Regions from separate parts of the Homo sapiens genome. Here region 1 is linked to region 2. The links come from fine-mapping of genetic effects on gene expression. A gene starts in region 2. The other region holds a variant in brackets. All regions are shown on one strand. Distances are between the middles of the regions.

Evidence for each region. PIP is the estimated chance that this variant, and not a neighbour inherited with it, causes the effect.
Region 1: its variant is fine-mapped to the expression of CAPS2 in blood mononuclear cells (TOPMed, PIP 0.99).

Annotation. Positions count from the first base shown.
Region 1 is chr12:75,387,754-75,393,142 of GRCh38, reverse strand. GLIPR1L2 (GLIPR1 like 2) reads right to left here and starts at 2,054. Exons shown (of 6, transcript NM_001270396.2): 1 at 1,793-2,054. The coding sequence starts at 2,026. It also overlaps a transcript of CAPS2 not described here. RefSeq lists an enhancer at 1,993-2,122 and a silencer at 2,080-2,252. The variant G/A (reference allele first, on the strand shown) is at 2,150.
Region 2 is chr12:75,328,112-75,333,500 of GRCh38, reverse strand. CAPS2 (calcyphosine 2) reads left to right here and starts at 3,177. Exons shown (of 17, transcript NM_001355024.4): 1 at 3,177-3,634. RefSeq lists an enhancer at 3,221-3,270.

The DNA of each region.
Region 1 (5,389 bases), 60 kb before region 2:
AAAGTATTCAGAATTTGTGTTCTAAGATCTTATTAATATTTGGGTGGAGTTTACAGGTATTAACTTTTGGAATTTATAAAAAGTACATACATTAAAATACTAAAAATAACCAATAAAAGAGTTTAAATAAGCTGAGTGATGTCCAAATCTGCTAAAGAAACATTTTAAATAGGCCATACTATTATGATAGACTATACTATTTACAGTTAATATTTATGTCCTAATAAAATACATGGGAAAAATATACATTAACTTCAAGAAAGAAGAAAAAGGTAAAAATTTAGGGTGGGACTTTAACCTATATATCAAATACTATTCCTTTAAAAATGTCTATATTTAAAAATATCGATTGTGGGTATACAGGTATATTATTTTATATACCTTATGTTTGAAATACTATATAATTTTTAGAGATGAGATAGAAAACCTATGAAAAGTTGTATTAGAAAGTATTATGTGTTTATTAATTTTCAGGAGTAAGGATAATCTTCAAATTGGGAAGAAACAGAATTAGTCACAAAAAATGGGAAATTAGTTGAAACTCCCAAATATCCCCAAACTCTATAATTGAATTCAAAAGAAAAAGAATTGGCTTAGAAAAAAGTATCTTCAGCAGATAGAACCAAATGCTAGCATAGTTCTATAAGACAGCATATAATCTGACATGGAAATGCTGACAATATAAAAGGTAAAGGAAATGACGAAGAAAGAACTCAAGTATGTCCTATCAAAATAGTATTTTAAAATCAACATTAAAACAAATGACCATTTTTGTAATTTATTCATTTAGCAAGTAATTGAACATGTCCAAATCAGTGAGGATGTGGTGAAAACAGAACAGCTGGTATTTGCTAAATTTGGCACTACCCTTTAGCATAGCAATTGCTATGTGTTAAATTAATAAAAAATATCATACCCTTAATTTATTTATCCCATTTCTGAAATTTGTGCTAAGAACTAATGCTGAAGGAAGAAAAGACATGTCTAGGAAAGTAGTCCTTGCAATATAATTTATAAGTTTGAAGCTTCTAATTCCCTAAGAGGACAGTTATTTATTTGCCGGATTTTCAGTCATTTTAATGACAGTCAGGAAAACTCAATAGCAACCAGGGAATAGTTGAGTTGTTAAATGACTATAGGGTGTAAAAGAGGGGGAAAGCAAGAACCGCATTGTAAGGTAAGGCAAAATCAGGGTCAAGACTAGGGTGAGGAAACTGAGACACTTCCTTAGGAGCCAAATTTGGAATGGGCACAAAAAAAAAAAATCAAGATAACAAACATTTTTAAAAGGCAAAGCTAATGTGACATCGATGATGGAAAAAGCTAAAAATAAAAATTTCAAATACAAACAGAATCTCATCTTGATTTGCACCACCCTGAGAGTGTCGCACTTGTTTTTCCCTAATCCAGACCCAAGGAACCTGTCTTTGTTAAATTTTTTAACATTTTCTTTACCCTTGATATTGATATTTTTGCACTGATTTTTAATTTTTAAAAACCCGTTGCATTAAAATATCATTTTCTTGAATTGGCGCCCCCTTAAAATCTGCACTTCAGGCCAGTGCCTCCATCACCTTAGTCCTGGCCCTGTGTAATATCATGGTAATAAGCATGTGTTAGAGTGTCCGCAGTTTTTCTCTGTGTAAACTTCACGTGTACTTTAAAAACCAAGCTAAAAGTGCGGTTCTCCGCGATCCTTCAGCCTCAGAGCAGTGGCCCCAACTACCCGAGATCCAGGGAGGCGTTGTGGCAACGGTAGTGGAAGGGTCGGCAAACCGCCTTCCGGCCTCACCATGAAGCGCAAGTTAGACCCTCGGGGAATGACGTCGCCCCGCAGCTCATTGTGGAGGTTCACGTACTCGTTGATAAAGTCTACGTCCTCCTCGTCTGGCAAAAATCTGGCGTTCAAACTAGAACCCAGTAGCAGTAGCCACAGCTCACAGAGCCGCAGCTTCAAAACGCCCCCTACTGCCAGGGGTAGGGACTGGGCCCTCCACTCCCGGGCGAAGGGCCTTGCGGCCTCCATGGTCCACCGGCCGCTGACAGGCCAGTGCGCACGCGCTGGCCGTCCCAGTGACCTGCCAATCTACGGAGGACGCAAGCAAGCCTTGTCCCGCCTCCCGGAAGGAGAAAGGGAGGAGGGAGGAGG[G/A]AAAAACAAAGGAGGGAGGAGGGGGTAAGGAGGAGGGAGGAGAGAAGAGGGAGGGGAGAGTGGGTAGGGGAGGGGGAGAGGAGGGGAAAGCTAGACCTGCAGAGTGAAGAAAGCTGGTAATAGATGTCTGACAAACTAAAGAAAGACTTGTGTTACGTGAGTAAGCCCTTTTCACTAAACTAATGTAGTGAAATGTTATCCCGAATTGATTTCTGACACTGAATGATATGTCGTTATTAATGAGTCATCAGTTTGTATGGTAAATGCCAATTGCTGAGTAACAGGTCTGAGGAACCTTCTAATTGTGCCAGGTGAAATGATTTTTCTGCGATACAGATACAAATTCAATTAAATTTTTTTTCCCCATTACCTGTTGAGTTGGAAATTTGGTGCAGGGCCTGCCTTTTATTTTCCTCAGGGACAGAATGGAATACAGAAATATTGCTAGTTCTTAAGGCCAAAGAAGTTCTTAAGGCCAACTTAATTGATGAGATTTTTTTCAGTTTTTAAATGAACCTTTGTGGGAAACCACAAAATAAATGGGAGTGAAGGGAGAGTAGGGATCACCAAACTCTTCAAAGGTTAAAACATTTCTACTTCTTCTCTCATCAGCACAATTCAGACAGCCCGGAATATCAAGATTCATCTTTTTCACTAATTGTGGCATTCACAGTAAGAACGAACTCTTTTGTTTTCTTTTTTTGTTCCAGACAAAATTGGCTAATATCTAGCTGATTTTGGTCTGATCTGTTTACCTCCAAACATTTTCCTCAAAAACAAAACAAAACAAAACCAACTTGCTTTGAAGACTTTAAATTCTAAGCATGGAAAAAAAGCAAGTATTAGTTTTGGAATACACGTTTGCATATTACATATTGTGCTTAATAGCATTAAGCAGATATGGAAAATTGACATTGGGAGAGAATTTTACTACAAAACATTGTAACAGGTTAGCCAAACATTTATAAAAAGAAAAGTGCTTTTAAAAATTGTCTGTGATGCACACAATTGAAAAACAATAGACCTATGTAAGATGGTTTCATTTATGCCCTTGAATACTTACTACTATGACTGCATAGTAGTAAGTTTTAAGTGATTGAGAAAGATCAGTAGACAAGACACAGATCCAGCTTTCAAGCAGCTTACAATTTAGTGAATTAGCAATCAGGCAGTATTTAAAACGTGATAAATACAAAGCCAAAATTCTATTGCTTGGTACTCTTGTGGAGGAGCAGGGAAGCCTTTCTGGAAATTGTATACAGAAAGTGAAACAGACAAGTCTAAGATAGCATTCTAAACAAAGGGAAAAGCATGTAATGTGCCTAAGGAGAGGAAGATCCTAAACGCTAGAAGTATTTTAGTATGGCTAGAACCTATTTAAGGGTGAAGGTGGCAAGTGCTGAAAGATGCAATTCTTTTATTATGGTGGTACTGTTGTTAGACTGCAAAAAATGCTAAAGAAAAAGTATAAATAGAATAATGCAATCTTAGATTTGGAAGAAATTTTAGCCACTATTGCTAGCCTCCTGTGTTAGGTATACTCTCCGGAACATCACTGACAGGTGATCATCACATCCTTTTCTTAAATAATTAGACCAACAGGGAAGCCCATTCCACTGCTAGACATCTCATTCAATAAATATTTCCTTGGTACTTCCTGTGTGTCACAGCCCAGCTAAAGGCTCAAATGCTGAACAAGCTAGACATGGAGTCTATCCACAGGGAGCTTTTAATTAAAGGTGACACAGATGAATCATCAAACAGTTACAATACAGAGTGGTGAATACTATTTTTAATCTATTTCACAAATATTTAATGTGTCAGGCACTATTTAAAATGCTTGGACAATATCAACTCACTCAAGTCACACAAATCTTAAGAAATAGTTATTATCCCTTTAACAGATGGAAAAACAACTGAGAAAAAGAGAAATCAAATTGCCTGAGGCCACCCAGCCAGGGAGTGGTAGAGCTACTTCTGTGTTTTTTTTGTTTTGTTTTGTTTTTTTTACCAATTCCTTTTCTAAAAATAGACTCTTTTTTAATAGCAGTTTTAGGTTCACAACAAAACTGAGAGGAAGGTACAGAGATTTCTCATGTAACTCCTGTCCCCACACATACATAAACTCCCTCATTATCAACATCCCACAACAGAGTAGTACATTTACAACTGATGAACCTACATTTATCCATTATTCCCACCCAGAGTTCATAGTGTATATTAGGGCTCATTCTTGGTGTTGCACATTTCATGGGTTGGTATAAATGTATAATGACATGTTTCCAGCATTTAGTACCATATAGAGTCGTTTTGCTGCCTAAAAATCCCTGGTGCTCAGACTATTCATCTCTCCCTGCCTCCTAACCCCGGCAACTACTAATTTTTTTTTACTGTCTTCATAGTTTTGCTTTTTCCAGAATGTCATATAGTTGGAGTCATACAGTATGTAGTCTTTTCAGATTGGCTTCTTTCACTTAGTAATATGTGTGTAAATTTCTTCCATGTCTTTTCGTGGCTTGATACCTAATTTCTTTTTAGCACTGAATAATTTTTCATTTTCTGGATGTACCAACATTTCTTTATTCCAGTAGCTACTGAAGGACATGTTGGCTGATTCTAGGTATTGGTGTATTATTCTATTCTCATGCCACTAATAAAGACAGACCCAAGACTGGGTAATTTATAAAGGAAAGAGGTTTGATGAACTCACAGTTCCACATGGCTGGGAGCCCTCGCAATCATAGTGGAAGACGAAGGAGGAGCAAAGGGACATCTTACATGGTGGCAGCCAAGAGACCATGTGCAGGGGAACTACTCTTTATAAAACCATCAGATCTCATGAGACATAATCATTACCATGAGAACAGCACGGGAAAAACCTGCCCCCATGATTCAGTTACCTCTCACCTAGTCTCTCCCATGACACGTGGGGATTATTACAATTCAGGGTAAGATTTGGGTGGGGACACAGAGCCAAACCATATCAATTTGCAAATGTGAATACAGTTGTTATAAACATCTTTGTGCAGGTTTCTGTGTAGACATAAGTTTTCAACTCCTTTGGATAAATACCATGAGCATGATTGCTGGATCATAACTATATGTTATAGTAAATGCTATTGTTTGGATATTTGTCCCTTTCAAAATTCATGTTGAAACTTAATCCCCAATGTAACAGTATTGAAAGGTGGAGCCTTTAAGAAGTGATTGGGTCTGTCCTCATGAATGTATTGATCCATT
Region 2 (5,389 bases):
TCTGATATCCCACACCCAAAGACATGAACATATATACGTGTGTGTGTGTGTGTATATGTGTGTGTGTAGGTATACAGATAGATAAATCAATACAGTTATATACATCTACATGTGTCTATATATATATGTCTCTTCCTGGATATAAAGATATCTATAGGCATATACACACATACATATACACACATACATTTATATATGTAAAGTTCTCTCTATGTATAAATCTGTTTGTATACACATATATGTGTGTGTGTCTGCCTATAGACATATATACATCTACACAGAGAGAGATACAGATGTCTATAGGCATATATACATATACATATGTTTGTATACAAAGAGAAAGAGAACTTTTAAGGAATTGGCTCACATTACAGTGGGGGGCTACAATAAAAAATCTGAAGTCCTAGGTATGGCCCAAAAGACACTACATAATCTGACCATGGCTAGTTCTCTGGCATTCTCTCCTGGCTTATTCTGCATCAGCCACATCCATCAGCTTGATAAGGATGCTCTCTCCTCAGCATCTTTGCACTTGCTGTTACTTTTGCCTGCAGTGCTCTTTATAGAGTTCCCTTCAGTGAAGTCTTCCCTGATCATTCTATATCCCCTGTCTGTCAGTGCCTATCCATTTAACCTGTTTTATTTTTCTTCATTGCATTAATTACCTCCTGAATTTATGTTATTTATTTTTTTAACATCTGCCTTCTCTATCAGATTGTAGCCTTCACCACAACAGTAGCTTTGTTTTCTTCATTGCTACATCTCTAGCACCTTGAACAGGAACTGAATCTTTAGGCTCTCAATAAAAATTGGTCGAATAAATAAATGAGTTCTCTTTAACTTTCTAATAATGTTGTATACAACTGTAAGCTTCTTGAGAGCAGAAACTATATTTTAATTGTTATATATATGTATATATACATATGAGGGGCTCAATAAATATTTTTGACTTAATCACATAAAAGGAAATGCTGGGTAAGCTTATATATTTCACTTTTTCTAACACTGGGTATATTTGAAGATAGAAGGTGTTCAGTGGATGTTTGTCAAATACATAAGTGGCTGAATGAACAAATAAATACAAAGATAAAGTAAAATATTTTCAAGTAGTAGGTACTCAGTGAATGTTGGCTGCATTAATGAATGATCAAGTAAATGAAAATTTAAAGTTGAGCTTCAAATGCAAACTCTTTTGGAACTGCAAAACAGTAAAGGTTGATAGGGATAAGGTTAATAGGGATAAAGGTTAACAGATAGCTAATTTAGTTTCATTTAGTGTATAGAGAAATTAACTGCCTGTAACAACAACAGAAATTTCATAGAGTAATGAATTTAAAGATTGGCAAAAGTAGAGTATATATAGTCAAACATAATCCAAGATTATTGCTCTTCTAAGAGACGTTTTTAATAAAATGTCTGAATTGTATACATTATGTTTTTTAGATCATGTTCCCAATGGCTTAGACAGCTATATTCAGAAATACTAAAACAATTTAGGTGTAAAAAGTCTAATTGCCAGGAATCAACAAGTGCATGTCCTAATGTTATTTTCTTGAACATCTATTTCTGGAATGGCCAAGGTTAGTTGGTGCACCAGAATTTTTAAGTTCTTTTATAACTTTTTAAAAGTTAAATTTAGGCCGGGCGCGGTGGCTCACGCCTGTAATCCCAGCACTTTGGGAGGCCGAGGGGGGCGGATCACGAGGTCAGGAGATCGAGACCATCCCGGCTAAAACGGTGAAACCCTGTCTCTACTAAAAATACAAAAAATTAGCCGGGCGTAGTGGCGGGCGCCTGTAGTCCCAGCTACTTGGGAGGCTGAGGCAGGAGAATGGCGTGAACCCGGGAGGCGGAGCTTGCAGTGAGCCGAGATCCCGCCACTGCACTCCAGCCTGGGCGACAGAGCGAGACTCCGTCTCAAAAAAAAAAAAAAGTTAAATTTAGCTTTCTGTTTTATTTTTATGTGTGTTTTCTGCTATTTATTTTTGCTTTTCTTTCTATGTGGGGGTAATGGATAGATGAATTTTATGGAGTGCAGCAGAAAAATACAGAGTGATTACATTATACCTCATTTCCTTCACTATTTTTATACTTTAAAAATTTATTTGTATTTTTACTCCCAAATTTGCACCAGGAAATACTGGAAATATTCACGTTTTGATACATACATTCTGAGGGGAGCTAATTTTGAAAAGTTACTGCAGATTAGAAAAACATGATTATGAAAGAACTGGATTAACTTTCATAAACTCTTACTTCTAATTTGAATATCTGACTCTTGGCTGTGTAATTTAGGAAAGTTAGTGCATATTAGAGTGGAGTGGATCCTTGGAATTATCTCAAACCAGCTTTTTCCCTTTATAGATGAGGAGTTGATGCCAAGATATTGTGTACAGAGCATACATAAAAATATTTAGGCCGGGCATGGTGGCTCATGCCTGTAAATCACAGCACTCTGGGAGTCTGAGGCAGGGTATCACCTGAGGTCAGGAGTTCGAGACCAGCCTGCCCAACATGGTGAAACCCCCTCTATATAAAGATACAAAATATTAACCGGGCGTGGTGGTGGGCGCATGTAATCCCAACTACTTGGGAGGCTGGGGCAGGAGAATCGCTTGAACCTGGGAGGCAGAGGTTGCAGTGAGTCGAGATTGTGCCATTGCACTCCAGCCTGGGCAACAAGAAGGAAACTCCGTCTCAAAAAAAAAAAAAGGCAAAGAATAAAATGCAGGTTTCTTGATTTCTAGGCCTTTGCCCTTTCCACACATCATTTTAAATTTTAATTATATATACACACACAAATACACATACATATATATGCAATTATTCATGTAATCATCTATATGTACATAGTCACACAAATTTAAAGTAATATCCATGTCTAATATCTATGTATCTCTATATAATATATTACAGTCTTTAAAAAAAATAAGTGCAAGCTCCTTGAGAGCAGATATTGTAGCATATGCTTAAATTTCTTCTCCTCAAAACGTCATTCTGGGCTCTGTGCACAGACAGGTGCCTTATGAAATATGTTAAACAGAATTCAATTAGACAAAGAATTACACAACAACCGCCGTGGATCCGGGCCGGGCTTTGGCCCTTTCCCTGCTCAGGAGAAGCGCGGGTGAGTGAGTCCGCTCCGGCTCCTCGCCGGGGTTTAGGGGCGCCGCGGAGCCGGTTCCCTGGGAGGCTGCGGCGGCTGTAGCTGAGGTTTCACCCCTTTGGGTTTTCCAGCCAGCAAGTACTTCTGAGAGCGTGGCGGGGTCTCCGGCCACAAGCTCAGTTCCGGTCAGCCAGGCAGCGGAACTGAGGAGGCAGATTGGCGGGGGCGGGAGGTGGCGTAGAACGAACAAGGGACTTGGGCCGACGACCTTTTCGTCCCTGGAGGTCAGAGTGTAATCAGAAGCCCTGCGCTGCGGCGCCTGTTGCCGGGCAACCTGCAGACGCGGGCCTGGACTGTCTAGACTGTCCTGTCTAAAGCTTTCTGAATGCGGTTTTTGGAGGAATCGCGCTAGTTTATACCTTTTCCAACTCTTCTAACTCTGGACCTCTTCTTACCGAGCTTGTTAGGTGAAATCAGGCTGACTGTCTCTTGTGCCCCTCGCCTGTCCTGTCCAGGAATCCCAGTTAGGTAGGGGATGGGGAATTCCTTCTGCTACACTGCAGGTGCTCTGAATTATAATATAATTTGGGAGCAGGGGGAGTGATGGGGTGAAAGGAGATATTACCCTGTTTTGCTTGAAATTAGGAATGACCTAAGTTTCAATTCAGATATCTGGGTCTGTAGTCGTCTGGGATCAACATAGACTTGGTCCCTACCTTCATGTAGCTTAAATACTAAATTGTATTTACATCTCTTTCTTTTTTTCTTATTTATGGGCTGAATTAAATCAGTTTATTTTTTGCTTTTCATTTTTTTCTGATTTGATATAAGTAACATAATAGCCAGTAATATTACTACCGAGAGAAGTGATAATAATTGGAAGTGGAAATAGTCATCCTTAAAAAAAAATGAGGGAAATGGGAAGTGTGTTCAGTTATTTTTGGTAGCACTAAAGACATTAGCCAACAGTATTTATTATATGCTAGCAATATCATCTCATGACATGCAGCCATTTAAGTGGGGACAGAAGCCATTTAGAAGTGCTTTCCCTTCCTTTTGCTACTCCCTATCTCCAACATAGCCCAGCTGGATATTCAGTGCTTAATGACAAAGACAACCCTTGGCATAGGTTTCAAAGATTCACTCACAGCCAGTTGTTTGCTGATTCTTGTGCCACCAAGTTTAGGTTTCTAATTTTTTAGTCCCTACAGCTCATTCCCCTCGAATTCTTCTATTACCTTTACCAGTGAGGATGTAGTACTGAAAAGAGATCTGAAACCCACGTGTGAATTCGGGTCTGCAATAACTGGCAAACATTTAGCGAAGTACAGTTCACTTTTCTGGATCTCAGCTGGCTCGGTTTGAAGATCAGAAGGTTGAGCTGTTTTTGTCTTTGAAGCCCTGTCAAAATCTTAAAATTATCTACATAGGGTGTCAGTTGCCTGACTGCTCTAATTCCATAGATCCGAAAGTGTTCCATGTATGACGGCATTGCCCTTTGAATACTCTTACTATATCTAAGTTAACCACTTTTGTGTTTTGTCATTCCGAATTGACTGACTTCACTTATTTAACAAACATTTGTTAAGTTCCTACTACATTGTGGGCTTTCTAAATCCTGAGACATAGGGTGAGCAAATATGAGGCTTACAGTCTAGCATTAAAGACTAATAGCTATAATGCAATGCTTTAAACATCTTATCTAATTGAAGACAGAATTTGTATGTTGGCATTGTGATTATGTTACAGTTAGATGCAGAGAAAGGAATCTAAGAATATGTGTAAAATGTATACATGTATTTTGCTATACATTAATTTACTTATTAACAAAATATTTACTACCCATGCTTTGTTAAGGGTGGGAGACGCCAACCTTCTTGGTCTTGACTGTTTATTAGGGGAAAGAAAATCTAATGACAGTGAAGAGTGAAGACTGTCCTGACTGGGGAAGTACAGGAACTGGGAGGACCTGGACATTTGAGGATTTACATGTTGCCGCTTTTTAAATTTGCAAATAAATTATACTGATTTGAAATGACCTATAGTGATTTGAAATAGCTATAAATGTTACTAGGATATAAATAATTGAGAGACTGATGTGTGGAGAAAATCACTTTGCTGATTGTTCAGCGTCCTTATCTCAACTTGGGTTTGTTAGCCAGAAATCATCATCGCGAATACAATAATTTGTGTGATTAAACAACCAACCCAACCCTGGCCTCCAAAACAAAACAACAGCAACTTTTAAAAGTTGCTTCTTTGTGAAAAATAGCTCTGGAAAGA